Regions from separate parts of the Homo sapiens genome. Here region 2 is linked to region 1. Evidence: fine-mapped expression QTL. A gene starts in region 1. The other region holds a variant in brackets. All regions are shown on one strand. Distances are from middle to middle. Region 1 holds the start of FOXL1 (forkhead box L1). Region 2 has its middle 15 kb from the start of LINC02189.

What was found.
Region 2: its variant is fine-mapped to the expression of FOXL1 in minor salivary gland (GTEx, PIP 0.95).

What each region holds. Positions count from the first base shown.
Region 1 is chr16:86,573,598-86,581,930 of GRCh38, reverse strand. It overlaps FOXL1 (forkhead box L1), which reads right to left and starts at 3,382. Exons shown (of 1, transcript NM_005250.3): 1 at 1-3,382. The coding sequence starts at 3,207. The coding sequence ends at 2,170. RefSeq lists an enhancer at 1,901-2,522.
Region 2 is chr16:86,699,006-86,715,705 of GRCh38, reverse strand. No RefSeq gene overlaps it. Among named protein-coding and RNA genes, the nearest start is that of LINC02189, 15 kb to the left of the region's middle. RefSeq lists an enhancer at 14,668-15,575 and a silencer at 15,837-16,024. The variant A/G (reference allele first, on the strand shown) is at 7,566.

The DNA.
Region 1 (8,333 bases):
AAAGATTAAAAACCGATTCAATACGGCAGAATTAACTCATCGTGCTTTCTGATATGGAGGCAGCTTCCTGGGCCCGGCATCCTCTCCACTCCTTCCCCTCCATCTGTGTGTTTACCCCTCAGAAGCCAGAGCCTCCTGAGATGCTAACACGACTCCCAGATATAATCCCAGTCTCCTCTTTCTTATTACACTGTTTGTTTATTTCCCTCCAGTAATCCACTGAACCAGTCACTGAGAGGTTAATGAAAAAACAACTTTATTCACAGAGGCTGAGAGTTTGGGATAGCAAAATATCCAGTGACAGCCCTTTCGCTACATTTTCAGTGAATCACAGTGAGCCTGGATCTCAGCAATGGCTCCTCCTGGAAGTTCTTCCAATCAAGGCTGGCCTGAAGTTTCCCAGAGTCTTCCCACTGGCCTGGGTAGAACCCAGTCGTGGAAGCCTGGTTCAGCATGGATAGGAGAATGAATTTTCCAAAAGTCACCTCTATGCCTGTGAATTATCCAATTACTCTGCCGGCCTGAAATGTCCTTTCCAACACATTGACCAACAGGCCCTCTGGATTCAAAGTTTGTCATCATTTTTAGACAAGTCCTGGAAACTATTTTAAAAGCGATCTTAAAGACCTCCCTCCCAACCTATTTCCAATAGTGCGTGACTACTTGTGTCTTTATCACATGACATAAAATAAAAGTGACTTAGAGGTTCAGAAAATTGCATTTCAGGGCCTCGAAGATTACCCAGCTAGAGATGGCATAGAGGTCGGTTGCATTTCCCCGGAAGCTGCAAGCTGAACTTGGTTGTGAACATCTCAATGTTCTTAATTAGATTTTCGTTGCAGACCTCTTCTCCCCTCCCCAGACTGCCAGTCACCTCTTTAAGGTTTTGATTTAGTATCAGCCTCCAGGCCTGCCTGGCAGGGCTGGGAGGGAAGAGCGGGCGGCTGCAGGGGGTGCGGGGGCCAGGAGTGTCTGGGAGATTCCTGCCATCAAACCTCAGGTCCTCTGGGGCCCAGAGAGGCCCCTTCCAGCGGACACCAGCACGTCCCCTTATTCTTCCCCCGCATTCATCCCTCTCTCTCTCTGCATCTGCTTTTGGTTGTTTCACCCAACTTTTTAAATTAAATGTAGTCTTTCATTATCTGTTTCTGAAAAATATAGCGACCACCAAGCCTGGATCTTGAAAAAACATGGAAATCAAAACTCTGACATTGTCCAAGGCATATCCCCTTCCCCTCACACCCTTCCTCATGGTATCCCTTGAAATATTTTGATCCCTTAAAAACAAAAGCAAAAGGATAGGACGTCTGCTGTTGTGGCTTACATAGCTGCATGTGTATTGGCTAATGAGCTATCGTAATGCAAGAAGATGTTATATAGAGTGCACTTTCTTAATAAAAATTGTTAATACAAGCGTTTTCAAAGGTCAATGCTTAGAGTCAAGTATTTATGCAAAGAATGAAACATGTTCTTTTTACTACCCAGAAAGAAATTAAGAGAAAAAGTCTCTGTTTAAAATAAAAGTGTTATTGCTCTGGGTGGTTATCAGCTTCTATAGCTGAACATTGGTCATAAATCCTCATCGGGCCCTACATCTCTCAGAAAACCTGAAAACCCGGGGTCACCCCCGGCACCTCCACAACTTCAAGTCAGGAACAAACCCAGCTGTGACCACCCACCACCCAGATGGGCTCAAAACCAAGGCCTGAGCCACACGGCAACAGCGAAGCAGGCGACGGTCATACGGGGGTCCCCGGTCGAAAGGACCTCAACTGCACCTGTAAGGCCTGCCTTGGGTGGTCTGCGGGCCCTTGCATGCCCGGGACTCGCAGGACCTGCGGTGGGCGGCTGAAGACCACACTCCATTAGACAGGTCAAACGTCAAGGAATCTCCCGCGGTGGAGGTCCCTGCAGGGCCCACGTGCGGTGCCCACGACCCCGCGGGGATCTTTTAAGTCTCCGTAGCTGCTCCCAGTTGCTGGGAAAAGTTTGCTTCGGAGAAGGCAGGCGAGCGCGCCCACCTGCGCGCAATGGTTGGTAACACTTCCCTGAACCCACAGGCCGACCCAGGCAAAGATCATTTTAAAATCCTCCGCCGGTGGGAGCTGTGGCCTTTCGCTCAGCGGAGGCTCAGGCTGGGCCGGGAGAAGAACCGTGCCATTGTTTGCTTTACTGGAAGTGGAGTACCGTGTCGGGAACCTGCAGGGGGAAATAAGAGAGGAAGGGGATCCCGAGCTGGTAAAAGCCGCCCTGGACATGCGGGTCGAGCATCAGGGAAGCGTTGAAAGGCGGACGGAGGCTGGAGGAGGCGGCCAGGAGCGAGGCACCCAGACGGCCGCCGGGCCCAGGCTTGGCACCCCCTAGGAGTTCGTCCCCTGAAGGCGGCTTCTGGCCCTGCTTTCCCGCCAGGATGCTGTCTATGCTGAAGCTCTTGGACTTGTCGGAGCTCTTCGGAGAGCTGCGGGAGGCGGGGCGCAGAGGGGACCCCGGGCCGTCCCCTGTGCGCGCTGCCTGGCCGACCGCCACGGCCGCTGCGCCCTGGGCAGCGTCACCAGCGTCCTCGTTCGGGGACGCGGTCCCCGGCCAGTGGAGGGGCGCCGGCGGAGAGGGGCCGTCCAGGAGGGGCGAGGGGCCCGCGGGCGCTGCCTGCAGGCGGGAGATTGCGGGGCCCGAGCCCCCTGCCCCGCTCCCCGCCTCCGGCTGCGCCTCCGCGCTGCGCTGGTGCGTCTCGGCGCGGGGCCTCTTGGCCTCCGGGGCCCCGGGGCCCGGCTTGGGCTTCCTCTTCCGGCGCCGGTAGTTGCCGTTCTCAAACATGTCCAGGCAGCGGGGGTCCAGCGTCCAGTAGCTGCCCTTGCCCGGCCGCCCTTTCTCGCGGGGCACCTTGACGAAGCAGTCGTTGAGCGAGAGGTTGTGGCGGATGCTGTTCTGCCAGCCCTGCCGGTTGTCGTGGTAGAAGGGGAAGCGGTCCATGATGAACTGGTAGATGCCGTTGAGCGTGACCCTCTGCTCGGGCGCGTCCTGGATCGCCATGGCGATGAGCGCGATGTAGCTGTAGGGAGGCTTCTGCGGGGTCTCGGCCCGGCCCGAGGCAGCTAGAGCAGCCGCGGGGGCGAAGGCCAGAGGGAGGCCGGGTCTCTCGGGACCGTACAGATACAGCATGGGCGAGGCGGCCAGGGCAGGCAGCCGGGGATCGAAGAGGTGACTCATGGCAAGCGAGAGCCTGCGCTGCGCTCCCCGCAACGCAGGAGACCCGGGCGGCCTAGGCACTGCGCCCCGCGCCGCAAGGGCCCTCCCGGGGAGCCAGCCGTGCCTCTGCCTCTGGCTCTGCCGCTCTCCCCGGCCGCTCCGTGCTCTGTCCCTTCTTCATGGCTTTAAAAATGTTAAATAATTGTTGTAAGTTTGCTGTTATATGTTGACTTAGCCCTGGAAAATAAATTGTCTATGATAAACAGTCCTTGTGTTCTCAGCCCACCCACATTAATTAAAATTTCATTGCTGAAAAACTCCAAGCTTTTCCCTCCACGTGTCTTTTTGATACCAGCCAATCGGTTTTGGGGCTATTCCTTCATTTGTTTATAGAATTAGTCTGTTGATAAGTCCGCCCACCCAAGTTGAATCAAGCTGTGTTTATTTGGAAAAATTTCCGGGCACCCAATATATAAACGCACTGATCTGATGTTTGAAATATCACGTCCACCCCTTGACGCTGTAAGCACACACAGTCAGTGAGGCAGGATGTAGACTGCGGTGGCTCAGAGCAGGGTCTGCTGAGCCAGGAAGGAGAGGTGGAGATGGGGGTGGGTGTGCAGGGATGAGTTTTACGCTGGCCTGGGGGAGCCCCATAACGCCAGGGCCTCCCACAAAAGGTCTTTTCTTCTCCCAGGCTTAACCGGAGATATCGAGATGCCACAGTCTAGTAAAACACTTTCTGAGGTCCTAGGAACCTTTTAGATTGGGGCAGGGAGAGTATCTAAGAAGCCTGAGTGTCTGCTGAGAAGGGGATGCGGCCCTCCCTGGAAAAACAGGTGGCAGACCCAGTAGGAGGTGGCACTCTCTAGGGACCTGCTCTCCCACACCCTCCCTTCCAGGGCTCTCCGGAAATCGGAGGGAAAGTGGACTCTGGGAGCCCAGTCTCTCTGGAAGGGAAGGCCTAAGGCACTGGGGGCCTGGGGAAGAGCTCATGGTCCACAGCTCCATTGAGGAAGGTTTCAAAATAAACCCATTTAGAGAACCGGGGGCAAAAGTAAGGTCCTCCTGATGGGGCCAAGGTTGCAAGAGAGGAACACCATAAAAGGAGGCCGTGGCAGCTGGCGCGGGAGGCCTGGTATTTGTGAATGTGGGTCTCCAGCTTTATATTCTGGGCTTTCCTGTTTATAACAAGGAGGGGGTTATAACAACTTTACAAGTGCATGCAGCTGGCCCGTGATTACATTAGGCATTTGGGAAGCCTGCTTGCTCTCCCTGTATCCACCCACCCTGGGGTGTACGCGGCCCTCCACCCCCATCTCATTTTACATTTTCCCACATCACTGTTTGAATAAAAAATCCTGAATCATGCTGATTTCGAAGGGGGCCTCTCCTCCCCACTCCACCGGTTAGGGTAAGGGTAGAGGCACCTAGTGTGACTACTTCCTGTTTATGACCACCCCCTGAATATTAAAACACACACACACTGTCACACACACACCCACACACACACACACACATTCGGATAACTGGCGTCTCATTGAGCAAATCGTGTGAGCATGTCAAAGAGATGAGGGAAGGGGGAGGATGGCAGGTGGGTGTAGAAATGGCCCACTGCCAGTGGGCCAGGAAGGAGGGAGAGGCACCGAGGGCACTTACAGGGGTAGGGGGAGTGTCTGCCGCTGCCACACCCGGCTGAGGATGTGAGTGCCCAGGTAGCCTCTGAACACGGAAACGTGGCGGGCATCCTTTTTCAAAATGAGAAAATCAGAAATAACCCGTGTGTTTGGGGTTCCTGGGTATCCAGCCCATGGAATAAGTAGACCGCAGGGGAGCGGGTAAATTTAAAATACCAAAAAGGAAGTCGCAGGAAGGGTGGAAAAACCGGCCTGGGTACCGGCACTGCCTGCGGGAGCGACAGGCCAGTCCCTGGGACACCTCGGGCCTCCCTCCGCGGCCCTGCTCCTCTAACGTGGGTCCAGCGAGCAGCCCGGCCGCGCCCGCCTAGGTCCTGGGGGTGAACCTCTGGCCAGGAGGGGCGAGGCTTTGTCTTTTCGTTACCACTCGCTCTCACCCGCGTACCCCTTTCAAACTTGGGGTGAAGAAACCTCAATGCCAGCGCCTTTGCAACCCGCAGGCCCCACAGTCTCTGGGGTCACCCAACCTCTCCGGGGCCGCGCGCCCCCAGCAAGCTCAAGTTTGGATCCAGTTCCTTCTCCAGCCTCGGCGCTCGCTCCAACACACCCAGACCGAGAGATAAACCGGTGTCACTATGCAACCCTTTCCCCACCTTCCTATCCCACAGCCCCTCCTGGAGCTCCCCACGCGGCACCCGAAGTCCAGCACGCACATCCCTGCCTCTACCGAAACTCCCGCCGTCCCGGCGCGTCTTCTAAACTCTAAGGCAAATCCGAGCTTGAATTTGTACGGTGATAAATACTGCCCGATTTGGTAATGGGCGGGACGTGGGCGGAGACACGGGAGGCTGGTGGGCGGGGCACCGATAGTAAAGCAAAAAAAAAAAAAAAAAAAAGAGAGCGAGAAAGAGACAGAGAGAGATTAGGAGAGAGAGAGAAAAACCAAAAAACAAAAAACAAATGCCCACGCTCTAGTCGCGGTTTGGAGACGCACACCCAGCCCCGCGCGTTTGCAGAAGTGTGCAAAGTCTCCGGGAGGTTTCAGCTGTAGAACTCCGGCTTTGCGCCCCAGCCCCGCTCCAGAGCGGGTTTGAATCCCGGGCTCCCGGGTGATTGATGAGTTTGTAACCTGAGCCTAGGAGGGGCCTCTGTTAGAAGGAACCCCGCGCTGGGGCAATTTCCATATTTCCGGGGAGTGCAGGCTCAAGCCCTAGGAGTCCGAGAGCGGATGCGCCCTCGTGCGGAGGCTCTGTTGGCTGAGGCCAGAGCGAAGGGCCTGCGGGGGGCAGCCGAGCTGGGAGACGGCCGGGCGGGCCTCTAGAACGAGTGTCCTAGAGAGCCAGATGGGGACACTGAATGTTCCCTGTAGATTCATAAGCCTCGGATCCCAGAAAAGCGCGTCATCTGAGAAGTCACTTGGTGAGGGCTCACCTCCCAGCCTGCAAGAAAAGCCTGAGATCTCTGGCCTGCCCGGATGCTCCAGAAGGACTGGAGTTTCCAACTCTGAGGCTTGAGCAGAAACGGGGTTCAGCGTGGGATGAGGGTAGTCAGCCTCCTTCCCAGTCCTGGGACAAAGCGCATGTGCGTTCCTCAGGGAGGCAGATCAGAGACCAGGCATTGGTGATGAAAACGGCCTCAGATAAAAAGGCTGACGGGTGAGAGACAAGAGCTCCTCCCACTGCGCCCCAAGCCATCCACTCAACCTTCCTCACTGGAAAGCAAAAAGCAGAAACCTGAGTTAACAGTAATCTGTGTCGCTTTCCAAACATCTGCATCACTTTTCCAAACGTAAAGACAGTTACCGCATGTACGACTTGTGTGTGTGTTACATACGTATGCATGATTCAACCGCGTGTAGCATGTTTGAGAAGAGCTGCGGTGGAAAGATGAAGGGTTTAGCCCCTCACCTTACTGACAACCTAAAAACATTGGAGACAGATGATAATAATATGAATAACTAGAATGTACTGAGCCATTTCATCCTCACAGCAGCCCTAATAGAAACCTTTGTCGCTCCCATTTTGCAAACCAGGAAACTGAACAACGCCCTGTAAGTTAACCTGCCTCAGGTGTCCCATGAGGAAGTGCTCCAAAGACAGAAAATAATCTTACAATAGCACCAGGTGTGGACACTCAGGGCTCCATGGAAGTTCTCTTGCCAACTCTTACTAAATCTGTGAAAGGCAGGCGTGGCAGATTCACCCATTTGACAGATGATGAAACTGAGGCTCGGCACATAACACCCCAAGACCCTGAAAGTAGGAAATGGCCGCACAGGGACCACAGCCCACGTGAGTGTCCTCCAAAAGTGGGTGCTCTGGGGTCTGACATGCTCAGGTATCTGGAAGGACTCAGAGGCAGAGATTGTCTGGAGTAGACAGTGGGAGAGGGGCCCTCCAGAGAGGAGAGGGTGTGCAGCACCCCTGGAGCTGGGAGATTCAGGACATTATAAGAAAATCCCAGAGTCCTTGCTTATGTTCCACCAAAACCCAGAAGACCTCTTCCTCCTTCCCTCCCCGCCCACTTTGAAAAGAGTGGAAGATTTCCAGAGCTGGAGTAGCAGGGCCCAGGGCCTCCCTTCTCTTGGGAGGCAGTGAGCAGGACATGAAGGTAATGGTGGTCCCACTGAATCAGCAAATGCAGAAGGAGACCCAAAAGCTGGGCGGGACTTCCCAAATGATGCACTTATTTATAGCACACCTTGTTCCCAGAAATGATCGAAAGGCTCTAAACAGAGGCAGTTGGTGCACATGCTCTCACTGCGTTTTTGAAAAGCCCAACCCTCTGCTTTCCCTGTAGAGCAGGAAGGTTGAAAAAGGAAGGAAAAGCCTGGCAGAATTAAAGGTGAGTGGCATCTTCCCAGACACAGTGGCATTCCCTGCCGGGGCTGCATGGCACGGTATGATAAATGCAGGTCACTCAGACCAAAGATTCCTTTCTCTTCCTCTTTTTCTCTTCTGTGTTCCACGTAAACCTTAATGGCTGGTCATGACAGTTTACTATGAACACGACACTATGGAAGCACCTTGCCAACCTGTGTGACGTTCATGAATCCCGGAGATAACCCTCTCAATGCTATGACTGTTTTCAGCCGAGAGACTGTCCCAGAGTGCTTAAGGTGATCTGTCTGATGTCACCTGAATCTTAGTAAGGGCCTGAGTTGGTGCACATGGATTCAGCCTTAGAGAGAGGGACTCCACTAGGAAGGCCACCTGTGAAAATAACACAAGACAGATGGAGACCCAGGGCCAGAGGGCCGCTGAGACAGGTGAGGCCCAGGGTCTCCACGACCTCGCAGCCTGGGTGGGCATAGACTGAGGTTCCAGAGCATGAAGCTGCACCTCAGGACACAAAGGGGGTGGAAGCCTCCCAGCTCCATCCCCTAAATGGGTCTGGGATGCCAGCAGCTTTACCAACCATGCCCCCTTCCCTCTTCACACACCCACCACCCAGGATGAAGTCCCCACAAGGCTGACACTCAGACAAACCTAGCCCTCTGCTTTTGCTCTA
Region 2 (16,700 bases), 130 kb before region 1:
AGGGAGACAGGGCTGAAAAACGATCTACTGGGTGCTGTGTTCGCTACCTGGGTAATGGGACCATCTATACCCCAAACCTCAGCATCATGCAATATTCCTATGTAGCTAAACTGCACATGTACCCCTGAATCTAAAATAAAAGCTGAAACCATTAAAATAGTATAAAACAAATTTTAAAATGGAGTGAGCCTCACTTTATAGCAGCCATTCAAGCTGAACTGTGGAAAGTCTCTACTGGATCCGGAGCCTGTGGTTGACACTAATTCCCATTGAGCCCGTGAATCCCCACATGTGCCTTCACTCTCCACCTACCCAGAGCCCCCCTCCTTTACAGTGTCCCCCCTTAGAAGTGTCCCCATCACCTCTAAGCATGAGGCCACTTCTGAAGTCCCAGAACATCCCAGGTGGTGTGACCAGCTGTGCCTTATCTCCGGTGCCACTGCTCTGTGAGGAAACCTGACCTTCAGAGAAAAAAAAAACCTAAGTAGGAGATAAGCACTGCAGAAATTTTAGAAGATACAAGTAAGGAGAAAAGAGGGAAGAATGCTCATCGGAAGATAACCACTTGGGCATATGATTTGGTGCAGCCACTTTGGAAAAGAGTATGGCAGGTCCTCCACAACCTGGAGCAACCCTGGGACCCAGTGAGTCACTCCCACCTATCTACTCAGGAGAAATAAAAATGAACTTCCATGCAAAAATAAAAATAAAACAAATAACGTTTTGCAAACTTGTAAACAAATGTCCACGGCAGCTTGTTCACAATAGCCAAAAGTGAGAACAGCCTAAATATCCATCAATGATGAACAAAATATGGTCTTTTTATACAAGGGAATGTTCCTCAGCCACGGAAGGAAGGAAGCGCGGGTACCCCCACCACACACCATGAGCCTCAAAAACATTGCGCCGAGTGAAAGAAGTCAGACACGGAAGCCCACGTGTTGGTCTTCAGGAGGAACAGCAAGTGCAGGCTGGACACATGTGGTGGGCCAGTTAAAGTGCTATGAAAGCAGTGCCTTCAGCAGGGCCTGTGCACGTTGGCCCCATCCCCCTATGGTATTTAAGACAACGTGTTCTCATGGCAACCCTGGGATTACTCCCACTTTACAGACCCAAAGAGGCTGAGTAATGTGCCCAGGGCCCCACAGTGCATCCACACTGAGTCCATGATCCTCCCTGCCCTGGGCTGGCTCTCCATGGCCCCCTTGACTCATCACTCAACCCCCAGCCCCCGTCTGAAGACCCAGGCATGGGCATTTCAATACTCTCCATCAGCACCATTCTAACCATCACCCAGTTATCCCACGGGACATGACACAGAGGCTAGACTCAGTTTCAGGACCTGTCGCTGTCCACTGGAAATTCATTCATTCCCCAAAAGCAGAGGGAAGGCAGTGGCCCAAAGGCCCCAGACACAAAGCTGGGTCCTGAGCACAGCAGTGAAAGGGGAGGTGCCCACAGCCCTGCCAGCATCTTCGGGGTGTCTGGCAAGGCTGGCCAGTGGAACCAGGAGGGCTTGTCCTGCTCAAATATTGACCAAAAAAGAAAGCACAGCAAGGCATGGTGGCTCACGCCTGTAATCCCAGCACTTAGGGAGGCAAACGCAAGAGGATCGCTTGAGCCAAGGAGTTCAAATCCAGCCTACACAACATAGCAAGACCCTATTCTCCATACACACACACAAAAGACGGAAAAGAATGCAATAATCCAACAGATGATTTTCTAAAGCCAGGGAGACAATAACACTTTTGTGATTTAAATTCTGAGCAGCTCTACAGCTCCAAGAGACAGAAATTAGAGAAGCAGAGCCACTGGAAGCATGACTCGTTCTCTTACAATGAAGTGTTGGGTCCCATCAGTAGCTGGAAGGCCTGGAACTGTCAGTCATGCCTCTCTGAAGATGCCAGGACCTGAGGTGCTTTCTCAACAGACCAAGACAGGATGGGGACCCAAAGGGTGGGCTGAGGGGGTACTTTGAGCTTGTGAGCTGCTAAGCACACAGAAAAGGGTCCTGTCTAAATCCTGCGTCCATTTGGGATGTGCACCATGGAAAGGGGAGCAAACAGGGCTGCCCTGGCCTCTGCCCCTCAAAGCCGGGTGTTCCCAAGCCCACTGGGTCCTTGGGCTCATTGTGGCTCGGCACCCCCCGTGGCAAGTAGGGATGCCTCAGAGCCTCCTGGGCTTTTGGGCATGACCTGTCTGTAGAGTACTCTTGGGGCTGAGGCCAGCAGGATGGGGCTGGCTTGGCCGCTCAGAGGTTCCCCTGAAGGAAGCCGCGGGAATAATGGCCAGCGCCAACAGAGCAGTTGCTGCGAGCAGGCCCCTTAGGAGCCGTCTTGGCAAATCCTCCCAGCACCTCGCAAGCAGGTCCTGCTGTCACTCACCTCTCGTGATGCCAGCGCTGGGCTGCCTGGCCTTGTTCCCTACAGCTTATAAGGAGGGAAGCCCCAGACCCCCCTGGGCCTCTGCATGTGGCTCTCGTGGGAAACCCTGTAGTCAGGACCTGCCTCCGAGGCGGGAGATCTCGTCAGCAGCCGACCACGTCCAGCCACGCCAGCACCGCAGCCAGGCTCTCTGGGAGGCACCAGCATCCTCACACCTCACTCTTCCCTTCAGGGTCATGACCGCGGGTCCAGCAACCAGCACCGAAAGCTCGTGGTCACAGTGGACGGACCAAGGTTCCCCAGCCTAGAGGGCATCAGAGCCAGACCCTGGGGTTTCAGCTCCCTGCTCAGGAGTGTGGAACAGGGGATCCACTTGTCTTTTAGTGAGCCGTGAGGTGCATGTGGGTGTATATGTGTATATGTGTGTGTACGTGTGTGCATTTTGTGCATGTATGTGTGTGTTATGTGGTGTGTGTGGTATGTGGTATATGTGTGTGTGGTGTGCAGACATGCGTATATGTATATGTGTATATCTGTGCATGTGTGTATATGTGTGTTGTGTGGGCAAATATGTGATGTGCATTCTATGTGTGAACATATGTGCATGTGTGTGTACACGGTTTGTGTGTACATCTGTGCAAGTGTATATATGTATGTGCCGGTACATGTGTGTAAAGTGGGTCAGTGGGTTGTCACCAAGACACAAGGCGACATGACGCACGTGATGTACGTCTACTCTTGCCGTGCAGCAGGTCTTGTCCAGGGTTTTCCTCATGGACCAGTGCCCAGAGCCATGTGGTACAGAGGCCACCATGGGCACTCACACATGGGATGAGTGACCAATGAGATGACTCTTACAGCAGGAGACCAGCTGCCAGGTGCCCTCGTGGTCGCCCTGTGAGGAGACCTGCCCCCGCCAAGGAAACTCCTGCCCAGGGCAACACGGACGTAGCCCCAGGTAATGCACCCAGCTGCGGGGGTCCAGGGGCAGGGCAGGTGAGCTGCCACAGCACCCACGGGAGGGGAAGCAGGGTGCTCGGGAGGGAGGAGGGGAATGTTGGCATCAGGAAGCCCTGGCCCCAGACCTGAACCCCCAGCTGTGACTGAGAAGTCATATAGCCTCTCTCTGAGCCTCAGCTCTGCCATCTGTAAAAGGGGATTTATGATCTTTTCTTCAAAGAGCTGCTGTGAGGGTTAGTTCAGCAAATAGCTAGGTAAGTCCATGACAGACACGTGTGTGTGCCTGTGGTTGTATGCACATGTGCGTGTGTGTGCGGAATCTAACACAGAGCCTGGCGTGTGGCATGCACAGGTGCAATCAGTGTTGCTCGTTCATGTATTTTCCCAGTGCGTGCTTATTAAGCTCCTACTGTGTGCTTGGTGGTGCTCCAGGTACTGGGGATACGGAAGCGAACGAATATGCACAGTCTCGGCTCGTGTGTAGTCAACAGTCTAATGTGGGAGTCAGGAAACAAGTGAGGAAACAGCCAAGCAAATACTGTGTGTTCAGTAATGACAAGTGCCATGGAGAAAAAAGAACACACAAATAAATCCCAGGTGAGGGATGGAAGGTGATTCATTTTGGGGAGACTCTGTTTAGATGTGGGTGTTCAGGGGAGGCCTCTGGAAGATGGTACCGTCTGAGCTCAGATCTGGATGACAAGAAGTAGGCAGCCACACAGAGTTCTGGAGGGAGAGCATTCCCACTGCAGGACCAGCAGATACAAAGGCCCTTGAGTGGAGCAACCCCGTGGCCCGAGAGCACGCCAGATGTCCAGGGCACATGGCTCAGACATCAGGCACTCAGGTTAGTGGCACACCTGGCACCTTTCTGGGCCCTGAAGCCACCATCTCCAGCCTCACTGCTTCCCCTCACCCTTAGGGAGGAAGATGGCTGTAGCTGGCAGTTGCCAGCGACAGGCTGCACCTGGATGTAATTTCTCCCCCGTGTTAATTGGCAGAAGGTGGGAGAGGGGAGAGAGGAAACAAAATAAAGCTTCAAAGTTTGGCTGTTCCTCGCGTTAATGCCCTCTCCGGAGCACCAAGGTGGGGGCCCAGTGGCCGAGAATGGATGCCCCAAGTCAGCCTCATCATCTCATTAAATCAAATTAACGGGCACAGCAGGAGTGCCGGGCCCCGAAACAGGCTGCTTCCCTGCTGTTCATGAATAGCCTGTCTTGTTTCCCTTCAAAAATAATGTCTTTAATGTCTTGACAAAAAACCCCTCTCTTCTGGGATATCCAAAGTTAGCAAAGAATTGAGCTCCAAGCAGCAAAAAGCTGAGTTGGTGTGCGGTGTGCAGTTTCCACTTCCTTCACTGCCCCCTTCCTGCTCCATCTGAAGGAAGGGGCAGCAGATGACGCCATGCGGGAGGGGGCTCTGCCAACCTGTCCCCATCCCTTTGTTCCTTTGGACAGCTCTGAGCACCCCTCCAGCCTCCTCTGCCCCACCTTGGCACAGGAAAAGTGTTTGGAGACTGGTCCCTGGCCCTGTCCATGACCGGTGCTCTTTCAGGCGTTTTCTTCTCCAATTGTCAACGGTGTGTTCTGGGAGTTTTTCTGCCATGAGCCCTGCTTGCTGGTGGCTGCAGGAGTGCTGAGCGTGGCGTGGTGGTGGCACAGGGCTGCCTGGATCATCAGCTGCCTCCAAGAGCGATGGCTCTGTCAGCTCCAGCAAGGGGCCCATGAGTTCTGATGCATCTCCCTACCCGCCTTGGACGGCCTGACCTTCCTTAGCAAGGGAGAGGCCAGGAGGGGTGGCCAGGGAGGAGCTGGTCGTCCTCCTCTGGTCATCCCCAGACCATGGAGAACAGGACGCAGGAGTGCAGAGCCGCTATCAGAGGCCAGGAGGCTCTGCCCGCCTTGGGTGACGAGCGAGGCTGCAGCGCCCTCTGCCCAACCCCAGTCAGTGCTTACGGAGGGCCCTGGTGGGGAGGCACAGGCAGAAAGGCCACCTCGGACTCCGTAGGAGCCGCTACCAGGCCGTCTCGGGGGGCAGGCACTCTGCTCTGTGAGTGCATTTGTAAGAAGCTGTATTAGTCCGTTTTCACGCTGCGGATAAACACATACCCGAGATTGGGTAATTTATAAAGAAAAAGAGGTTTAATGGACTCACAGTTCCACGTAGCTAGGGAGGCCTCATGATCACGGCGGAAGGTGAAAGGCGTGTCTTGCACGGCAGCAGGCAAGAGAAGAAGCGCCAGCAGAGAAAATGCCAGACAATGCTTTTAAAACCATCAGATCTCGTGAGAACTCACTCACTATCACGAGAACCGCATGGCTGAAACCACCCCCATGATTCAGTGATCCCCACCTGGCTCTGCCCTTGACACGTGGGGATTATTACAATTCAAGGCGAGATTTGGGTGGGGACTCGGAGCCAAACCCTATCATTAGCCTTTCGGGATTTTTCAAACGGAATATCATTGCATCAGATCTCTAACTTTACACTTTTCAGAAGGATCGGTTAAATGAAAACAGACCTTAACATTCAGACAAGTTTATGTTGTTGCACCTTAAAGATTTGGGCCTGGGGCTGGGATGCACATATCCAGTGCATGGGTGGAAGAAAAGAGCAGAGTGGGGCTTGATCCTGAAGGAGTGGGGAACCACCGTCCTCCGCATCCAGTCCCTGCTTCTCTCCAGCTTCACTGCTCACTGCTTCTCCCCGAAGGGTCTCCCTTGCGTCCACCCTGAAGGCATTGCCACTCCCCCAACATGAAGTCAGCTTGCTTGATGCCACTTCTGTTCAGGCTGTGCCCTCTGCCCGCTCTTCTCTTGCTACCATCTCCTCCTCCCCGAGCTTCTGCATGGACCTCACCGCCCCCAAAACTGCCCCTGATTTCCCTCCCAGTACTTCCCCTACAGTGACTCACACAAGATTGTAATTGCTGTTTATCTCTGTCTCTTGCACTGAATTTGGAGTCTAGGAGAACAGAAAGTGCCTGTTTTTCATTGTGTGTCCCCAGCACAAGGCTCAGAACGTTTCATCCCCAGGGATCTTGCCTCATTGTTGCAACATGGCTGCTGCAGCTCCAAGCATCACGTCCTCTTCTGAGACTTCTTCTCTTTGAATGTCTCTCCCTTACATAAGGAGGAAAAATATTCCCCAGAAACAGACTTTTTATGTCTCATTGGGCAGAACTGGGTCAAATGGCTACTCTAAACATTGAAAGAATTAGATGGAGGGAGAGAGGTGAGAAGAATGGATAGAGGAGAGGAGGGAAGAAAGGAGGAAGGAAAGAAGGAAGGAAGAAAGGAAGGAAGGAAGGAAGAGAGGAAGCAATTCCCTGAATTGCTTTTCACAATGCTCCACTATGATTATATTGTAGGTTTTATGGGAATTGCAGTCAACCGAATTGGGGAAAATATGGGAATTGCTGACAAGAAGTCAGCAAATGGGAGACCCGGATTCCAGGTCTGGTCCTGACTTGTTAGAACACTGTGAGAAATACAGACAGCCTATCTCAGCCCAGCTCTATTGTCCCTGTCCTCAGATGGCCCTGGGGTCTAGCCACAGCTTTCCAATCAGAATCCCCACCAGGGGCTTCCCACAGCAGATGGCATGAGTCGTCTCCCCAGAGCCAGCCCTTCCGTTCTTGCACACAGACAGTCGGCCTCCCGTGACACAGGCTGCAAATGCAACATGCTCCTCTTCCAGGAGCTACCACAGCACCCATGGCAGGAGGCCAGGTAACGCATCCAGTCACAGGGGTCCAGAGGCACGGCAGGGGAGCTACCACGGCACCTATGGTGGGGTCCAGGGGTCCACTGAGGAAGGGTCTTTTGGCCCAAGTCGACATAAGGGGAAGTCTCCTTCCGGAAAATGCAAAGACAGGCCCCCTGCCCCACGCTGGCTTTGGATGTTGTCTTGAGAGGTTGAGATGCTCGAGTCTGCGGCCCCTTCCTATAGCCTGAGGACGAAGTGCCGTCACACCGAGTCTGGACACACCTGGGCCTTGGTGACATCATTAGGGCCCTGAACTCACCTGGGCTCACTGTGTCTGTGCCTCTCACGAGAGAGCGTTAAAAGTCGTGTTAACACTGTACCTAGATTTCCCACCACTTTTCGCTGGGACATCGTTAAGTGAAACATTTCTCTTTGGTAGTGGCTGCAGCTTTCAATCATGGCCTTCAAAATGTCCAGAAAGCAGGGATGGCTGGGAGGAGAAGGGTGAGCTTC[A/G]GTGAAAATGGGACCCTAAGGAACATCAGTGTTTATGTTGCTCACATAAAGCCTGTCTGCTTTGTACTTGGCCTTCCGAAATCAGAGTCCATACACTTCAGTGTAGAAGTGTCTCATTCAGCCGTGGAATAAGAATCTAATGACAGAAAGTAGAGTATGAGATGTGATAAAAGACATGGGAAATTCAAATGGCGTTGGTGGAAGTCATTTGCCAGAATCCTCCGACCCAGGAGAACGAGTCTTAGAGCCCACAACTCCCTGAATATCGGGTCCCTGAACGCTGGCTGTCTTCTCCGGTCACGTCTGACTCAGCAGCCTGGGTTTCCGTCACGGGGCCGTGCAGAGCGCATTTGGTGTAGACGGCCTGCAATCCACGAGCCTCTCCTTGGGATTGCACTGTTTCATATCTGGATTTCCAGTAAGTTTCTGTGCGTGAAAAGAGGGAGCACTGTGAACACGCATGGCTCTCAGGCCACGTCGCCGGTCCACAGGTATGCCAGAGCACAGTGGCCCTTGTTTATGCCCATGAAAGGCTGCGTTGGCGTTTTCCTGTAAAACCCTTGCTTTCTTCAAATGAGATGTGTCCTGACTTGACAGGCTTTGGCAGAAGGTGGAAAATTCCAGTAACTGAGTAACCCAAAAGGCAGCGTCTTTATCGAGCCAGGATGTCAGCAGCTGTCTCTCGAAGCCCTACGCTCACATCTGACACTTCGAGGTATCACTGCAGTCACGCACTCCACGAAGGGCATGAATGGACGGCGCTCACTTGGTTCTGCTCGAAGCCAGGACGGATTCAGGAGCATGCCGCAGTGGAGTAGGGAGTTTATTTAAAGAAAGGTTGTACCCCTTAGTGTTTCGCAGAGTTAAATCAGAGGTGCTTGTGGCACCCACTCAAAATTGACGAGGCCACGCCGGGCTGCACACTTCCTCCTACACTCTAATATCTCTCGATTCCAGAATATTCCGCACAGTGCTGATCAATAAGGGGAACTACGGGGTTGATAGCTGTCGAGGCCCACTCCGCGTGCAGCTCATGTGCTCCTCACAACTCCAGGAAGTGGATGTTGCTCTTATTCCTCACTTACAGTTGGGGAAACTGAGGCCAGCAGGGTGAAATCACCCGCCCCCAGCTCCTACAGTGGTTCCTGTATGGGGCGGAGGTGGGATGTGAATCCAGGCTGCCCAACTCCAGGCCCAGACTGTCTCTCCATCTGGGGAGCCATCAGCTGACACCGATGAGCCAGAGTCCTCCCGAGCTGCCACTTGGCTCTGGAGCGCAGCCCCTACTTCTCCCACTGCCTCCCACAGGTCTGTTCAGCCCCCAGTGCTGCCTCAGACTCAGTGGGTTACAAACTGACCTTGGCCTTCACAATGGGAAGGTCAAACTTCACTCACCTTGTCTTCCTAAGGACACAGGATGAGAAAGGTGAGGAGCTTCCCCGGTCACAGGGCCAAGCTCCTGCTGCAGCCACGGCTCTCTGAACCACCCCATTCATACCTACATGGCTGTACCCCCAAAATGCCCCCTGGAGCCTGCTACACACAGATGCCAAATCAGAATCGCCGAGGTAAGGCACAACTATTTGGGGACCCTACCACTCCGTCTGTTCTCCCATGCAGGGATGTCCACTTTCCTCTCTTGAGCACACACGCTAGGAATTGCAGCACTGGCCTCCAGCCACCCTCAGGCTTCACAGGCTTCTTCCCATGGGGAAGGAGGGGTGGCTTATCTGGCAGGTCAGCCTGGTGCTCCCTGGGCCAGGAGTTCCACCTTAACACACAGCCAGGGGCATCCACGGTCGGAGGATGCAGGGGCGTGTGTGCCTGCCGCTGGCTGGTGAGGTCAGGGCCATTACAGATCAAGATCTAGGTTCCCCAGCAACAAAGAGGGTTCTGGACGTTGATCCTCGTGGTTCCTCGAATCTGTGCTCTGTGGTTTTCTATCCTAGAGGAGAGGTGATGTGATTAATTCGACATTCCCAAGCACCATCCTTACAAAAGCTCTGGCAGAAGAGATGGGACTCGAACCTAGGTCTTAGCGTGTTCTTTTTGCCCACATCGCCTCCCTTTTCTTCCAGAATTCATGACTCATTTTTTAAGACATGATATTTTAGAAAATTGGCCCATTTTCTAAGAAAGAATGCAGACATTGGCCAAAAAAAATTTAAAATTCCGATAAGGCATATATTAGTCCATTTTCATACTGCTATGAAGAAATACCCAAGACTGGGTAATTTATAAAGAAAAAGAGGTTTAACGGACTCACAGTTCCACATGGCTGGGGAGGCCTCACAATCATGGCAAAAGGCAAAGGAGGAGCAAAAGCATGTCTTACATGGCGGCAGGCAAGAGAGCATGTGCAGAGGAGCTGTGCTTTATAAAACCATCAGATCTCGTGAGACTTATTCACTGTCATGAGAACAGCAAGGGAAAAACCCACCCCCATGATTTAATTACCTCCCACTGGGTCCCTCCCATGACACATGAGGATTACGGGAGCTACAATGTAAGATGAGATTTGGGTGGGGACACAGCCAAACCCTATCAGGCACTTTAGGGAAGACTCATGAAGCCCCTCCCCCAAGCCTCTCTCAGTCTGGTCCACCTCTGTATCTCACTGCCAGGACCCTGGGCCATGCTGCATCGCCTTGTCCAGGACCATCCCACAGTTTGGACGGGGCTCCCTGACTCCCACCCCCACCCAGTCCACGTCCTGCAGCTCAGCAAAGGTTGATTTATTTATTTATTTTGAGATGGAGTCTCGCTCTATCGCCCAGGCTGGAGTGCAGTGGCACAATCTCAGCTCACTGCAACCTCAGCCTCCCAGGTTCAAGTGATTCTCATGTCTCAGCCTCCCAAGTAGCTGGGATTACAGGCGCATACCACCATGCCTGACTAATTTTTGTATTTGTAGTAGAGACTGGGTTTCACCACGTTGGTCAGGCTGGAATCAAACTTGTGACCTCAGGTGATCCACTCGCATCGGCCTCCCACAGTGCTGGGATTACAGGTGTGAGCCACCGCGCCTGGCCACAGCAGGGTTTAAAGAAAGGTTAAACCACTTAGTGTTTCACAGAGTTAAGCATGGCTTTGAATGATCCAACACCAATTCTCTTCTTTGTTTAAACCATTCAAGTCTTCCCTGGGTCCTCAAGACCCATGCAGTTTGAAGCCATCAGTGGGCCCTACTACACCCCAACCCCATCTCACCTCTACCTCTGCTGTTCTCCCTCTCTCAACACTCACCCCCGAAACAGAGAGTGAGCTCCTCATCTGGTCATTACCACCCTTCCGCTCTAGGCTTCAGTGTCACCTCCACCAGGAAGCCCTCTGCTCTCTGAACTCGGGACCCCCATTACTGGGTGCTCCCTCTGGATTGTGTCAACCTCATCCGCTGTGTGAACAGCTCCATGAGGGCAGTGATTGTCTGTCCCTCACATCCCAGCACCTTGGGCTCCCCCACCTGGACTTCCTGAAGGTGCCCACCAGCTCCTGTCCCCGCTGGTCAGGGGTCGGGGCAGCAGGAGCAATAGGGCCCTGCAGTCTTGCGAGCATCCCTGGTAAAATCAGGATTGCTTCCCGGGAGGAGTGGGCCCTCCTGAGATGCTTTTAGAGTTTGTTTCCAAAGGTGCATTTTTAAAAAACTAAGATCCAATCCAAGAGAAGAAATCCTACTTTCCTTTGCCATTTAGTGAGAAGGCATTGAGTTTGGCGGCGAGGGGCACCTTCAGGAAATTTGGGGGTTTACTTCTTTGCAGGAAGAGTTACCGCTGGGGGATTTTGATTCTCATCCTCATTCTTTTTTCCTGGAATGTGCGTGGAATTCCCGGGGCACTGCATGCCCTTTCCAGGAGGCAGGCTGCACACTTTCCACCTGGGGCCCTTGCATTGCCGCCCTGCTGCTTCCGCTGTTGGATTTTGGGGTTTGAGGGGCCCTTCTCACTCACCTCCCCTGAGCTCTGAGAGCTCACCTCACCCTCTTGGGGCTTCCAGGGAGACAGTTACCATCCCCATGAACCCATCAGCTTCTCCCTGCAATGCCCTTTTCACTCTGGTGGAACACGATCATCCCCTTCACGCCTCTTCCTGCTCCGGGGCCTCCTCCCAGAGTCTTGCCTTTGAAGTGCGTCTGAGCCCTGGCAGCTTTCAGGTGAAGTTACACCTCTTCTTATCTTCCCAGTGTCTCTGGGGGTGAGGCCTTGGCAGCTGCAAGACTCTGTGTGGAGGAGCCTGTCCCCGGGGTGACCTTGGGCTTTCTGAAGATGGCACCTGGGCTGCAGACAGATGGAACAGAGGCAGGGCCCGGCCCAGCCTGGCCCTGCACCCAGCACCTGCCCCATCTACCTGTCTCCTTTCATAACTCCTCCTCTGCAAGGCGGGCTCCACACGCGTGGAAGGTGGCAAGGGTGACACCCTACACAGGTGCTAGTGGCTGCCAGACTTTTATATAATTGCAGCAAAATATACTTGTTATCACCGTTTAAACCATTTTTATTCATATTGTTTTGTATCCATCACTACCATCCATCTCCAGAATTTTTCTATCTTCCCAAACTGAAATTCTGTCCCATTAAACGCTAAGTCAACACTTCCCATGCATCCTCTCCCAGCCCTGGCACCCACCATTCTTTCTGTCTCCATGAATCTGACTACTCTAGGCACCTCGTATATGTGCAGTTGTACAGTATTGTGTGTGTGTGTGTGGGTGTGTGTGTGTGGGTGTGTGTGTGTGGGGAGGTGTGTCTGGGTGTGTGGTTATGTGTGTGGGGGTGTGTGGGTGTGTGTGTGGGTGTGTGGGTGTGTGGGGGGTGTGAGTGTGTGTGGGGTGTGGGTGTGGGTGTGTGGGTGTGTGTGGGTGTGGGTATGGGTGTGTGTGGGTGTGTGTGTGGTGTGTGGGTGTGTGGGTGTGTGGGGTGGGTGTGGGGGTGTGTGTGTGTGGTGTGTGGGTGTGTGGGTGTGGGGGTGTGTGTGGGGGTGTGTGTGTGTGGGTGTGGGGGTGTGGGAGTGTGTGTGTGTGGGTGTGTGTGCCTGGCTTATTTCACTGAGCATAATGCCCTCAGGGCTCATCTATGTTGGAGCATGGGTCAGGATTTCCGTCTTTTTTAAGGCCGCGTAATATTCCACTCTATGGATGGACCACATTTTGTTGACTCATTTATCTGTCAACGGATACTTGGATTGCTTCCACCTTTTAGCTATTGTGAATTGTGCTGCTCTGAATGTGGGTATGCAAAAATCTCTCCAAGTCCAGGTGCAGTGGTTCACACTTGTAATCCCAGCACTTTGGGAGGGTGAGGCAGGTGGATCATTTGAGGTCAGGCGTTCGAGACCATCCTGGCCAACATGGTGAAACCCCGTCTCTACTAAAAATACAAAAAATCAGCCAGGCCTGGTGGTACACACCTGCAGTCCCAGCTACTCAGGAGGCTGAGGCAGGAGGATCAGTTGAACTCAGGTGGCAGAGGTTGCAGTGAGCTGAGATCATGCTGCTGCACTCCAGCCTGGTCAACAGAGTGAGACTCCATTGCAAAAAAAAAAAAAAAAGAAAAAGAAAAAGAAAAAAAAAATCCCAAGACTCTGCTTTTAGCTCCTGTAGGTATATACCTAAGAGTGGAATTGCTGGGTCATATGGCAACTGTCTAATTTTTTGAGGAACCTCAGAGTGTTTTTCACTGTGGCTGCACTATTTTCCTTTCCCGCCAACTGTGCACAAGGATTCTGTCCTCTCTGCGTCCTTGCCAACATGTGTTATTCCCTGCCTCTTTCAGAACAGCCGTCCTAATCGGTGTGACATGGAATCTTTGCTTGTTTTTTTTTTTTTATTTTTTTTCGAGACAAGGTCTCACTCTGTTGCCCAGGCTGGAATGCAGTGGTGCAATCTCAGCTCACTACAACCTCAACCTTCTGGGTTCAAGTGATCCTGCCACCTCAGCCTCCTGAGAAGCTGGGATGACAGGCATGTGCCACCATGCCTGGGTAATATTTTTACAATTTTTAGTAAAGCTGAGGTCTTGTTATTGCCCCGGGTGATCTTGAACACCTGGGCTCGAGTGATCCTCCCACCTCAGCTCCCCGAAGTGCTGAGATTGTAAGTGTAAGCCACCGTGCCTGGCTCAGATAGTTTCTGAAACCTCCGTTCTCAAAACCTGTTGGTCATCTTGTCCTGGAACACCATTTTGAAGTATTTATCCCTCTCTCCTCTCTATTATCGAAGAGGTAGTTTTATGAAGCTGTGGTCCTGCTTTAGGTGCCAGAAACTAGCTGTTGTCATTGTGATACAAATGGGAACCCAGGTCTCCCCAGGAAACTGCCCGGATACTCACTCTGGAGGAGGCAGAATGCGGGCGGCCGTGCTGGGAACAACCCCGGCCTGCTGGCTGTGGCCGGCCTGCAGATCCCTGAATCTGTAGGTATCCAAGACTTGAGGATCACCTGAGCCTCACCCCAGAAGGCGGTCACGATTCCCCATTGTACCAAAGAGGGAGTCAGGGCTTGAAGGGAAACTCTGCGCTCAAAGCACTTACGCGAAAAGCACATCTGTCTTCAACCGCATCCAAAGTGCTGGCCACCGGTCTTCCATATGGTCTCCCGGAGTGGGGCGTCCTGGCCTGAGGAACAGGACCCGAGGCTGCGGTGGGGTCTCTGCCTCCTTTTGTGTCTGCCGCCCAACCGTCTTCCGACAGGAGCAGGTGTGGAGGTCCCTTAGCTCTTTCTGTGATGCGCGCTGGTTCATTCCATCGGCGTTTCCGAGCACCTGCTGCATGCCCGCAGGGTGCGTGCACAGAGGGTACATCAGGGAACAGAATGGGGCGGGTCCGTGCCCTCCCAGCTTGTGAGGGTGGGGGTGGGTAATGAGGAAATTAGTGCGATGGCCTCGGAGGGCGCTGAGAACCACGGGAAATCAACTCAGGGAGACTATGGGGTGAGGCTTCGATTGGCTGCTCAGGAAAGACCCCTCTGAGGACAGAAGAAGCTACCAGGGAAGAGCTTGCCAGACAGGGGGGAACACCATGGGTGCAGGAACCCCTGCGGAAGGTCAGGAGGACAGAGAGGGCCAGGGTGGCCATGGGGGGCGGGAAGGGGAAGGGGAAAAGCGGAGCAAGGGAGCAGGTCCTGGATCGTGCACGTCTGTGGGAGCCCAGAGAAGCCCTCTGGATTCGATTCCAAGGGTGATGGAAAGCCATGACCCAGGCCACGGTGGGACGGGGACTGCAGGTGGCGGGGGACGAGGGAAGCAGCTGGCTCTGTCCTCCGGAAGGAGAGGATGGAGCTTAGCTCAGGTGTGGAGGCTGTGGAGCTTCTTGGGTGCCCATGGAAGGCTGCACGGTCCACACTCAAGGAGGGCTGGACGGGGGAGTTCAACAAAGACAACTCTGGGAGGTGGAGGGTGGGGTGCCCTTTTCAGAGCCATGGAGGAGGAGAGGAAGAGCAGGCCTGGGCAGAGCCCAGAGGGCCCGTTTGGCCATTTTACATCTGAGATGCCTCCAAGATGAAAACCCGGGGCATCTCCAAGGCATCTGGACGTGGGCCTTCCTGATCGGGGACTCGACAGGCCCTCCCGCAGCTGGGCGTGGGCTGCGACCTCTGTGAGCCGTCGCATTTCATCCTCCCGGCAGCCTCACTCCCCTGCTTTCACAGGTGGGGCGGGCAGCACGGCTGGTGAAGACCGGCGAACGAGGCTGCAGGTTTGATGGCAGCTCCCCTGACACCGCCCTGGGCTCTTCTCCAGGACCAAGGGCTGGAACCACATGCAATTGCCCAGGCGGGTGGAATGGAAGAAAAAGGATGGGATGGGAGGCTGTCACCCAACCAGCCCCCTTCTCACCAGTGAGCCCAGATTTCGAGTTGACATTCCTTTGGAATCCATCCAGTAGAAGAGCTCTTGGTAGAGAAATCTCTCTCAGCATGATTCATTCTTATTTTTAAAAAGAGAAGACAAAAATGTAGAAGAAAAGAAAAGCTCATCCTCTCTGTTTGAGGTCCTGCAGCTGAATTCATCAAGAAATGCAGGAAGCTGATTTTCTGTCTCCTTCTGCCACTTTGAGGATGTGCGGTCTTGTTTTCGTTTGCCATTTTAAGCCCAGCCTTTTAAAGAAAGATATTTCACTCTATCAATGTTCAGTTTATTTTGTTACATAAAATCCCCTAAACCTGACCTCGTAAAAACCCTGTTGAGCTCAGTATTCAGAAAGGCAACCAACTCACAATGAGCTCACTGTACAAAGAGGGTGTGTGTTGGGGTGTGCTGCATGTGAGCATGGTGTGTGTATGTGTGCGTGTGATACCGCACACGTGCAAACTCTAGAACATTATAGCCAGAAACAGCGGAGGCCCTCGAAGAGCACCCCTGAGAAGTCTCGCTGAGCAGGAGAAGTAACCTGGCCCTCTTCACCTGTCCACAGGTCTGCCTACAATGCGCAAACCCACAGAGGCCACCTGTCAGGGTGTTGGCGGGCCCCGTGGGTTACGATCATCCCCTGAATATCCCCTGGTAACCTTTGCACCCTGCTCTGAGTCCTGGAGTTTCTGTCATCTCCTACAGTTACATCTTTTTGTTGTGGAGATTACAAGCTGGCCAAGGAGTAAGACATTTTCGGCTGGGCACGGTGGCTCACGCCTGTAATCCCAGCACTTTGGGAGGCCAAGGCAGATGGATCACAAGGTCAGGAGATAGAGACCATCCAGGCTAACACGGTAAAACCCCATCTCTACTAAAAATACAAAAGTTAGCCGGGCGTGGTGGCAGGTGCCTGTCGTCCCAGCTACTGGGGAGGCTGAGGCAGGAGAATGGCGTGAACCCGGGAGGCAGAGCTTGCAGTGAGCCAAGATCACGCCACTGCACTCCAGCCTGGGCGACAGAGCAAGACTCCGTCTCAAAAGAGAAACAAAACAAAACAAAACAAAAAACACATTTTCAGGGGCCTCCAAATAAAAAGATATTTGTTCATCAGCACTAAGCTATGGGACCATGACATCACACAGAACAAAGGCATCGGGAACACAGTCGAGATTAGGAACATGAATGGGAGAGGAGGGAGGTGGAGGGAGTGTAGGACCTCGTCATCGAGTTATCAAACCAGTACTTGGACAATCAGGGCACAGCTGGAAGAAGCAGCGTGTCAGCTACACCTAAAC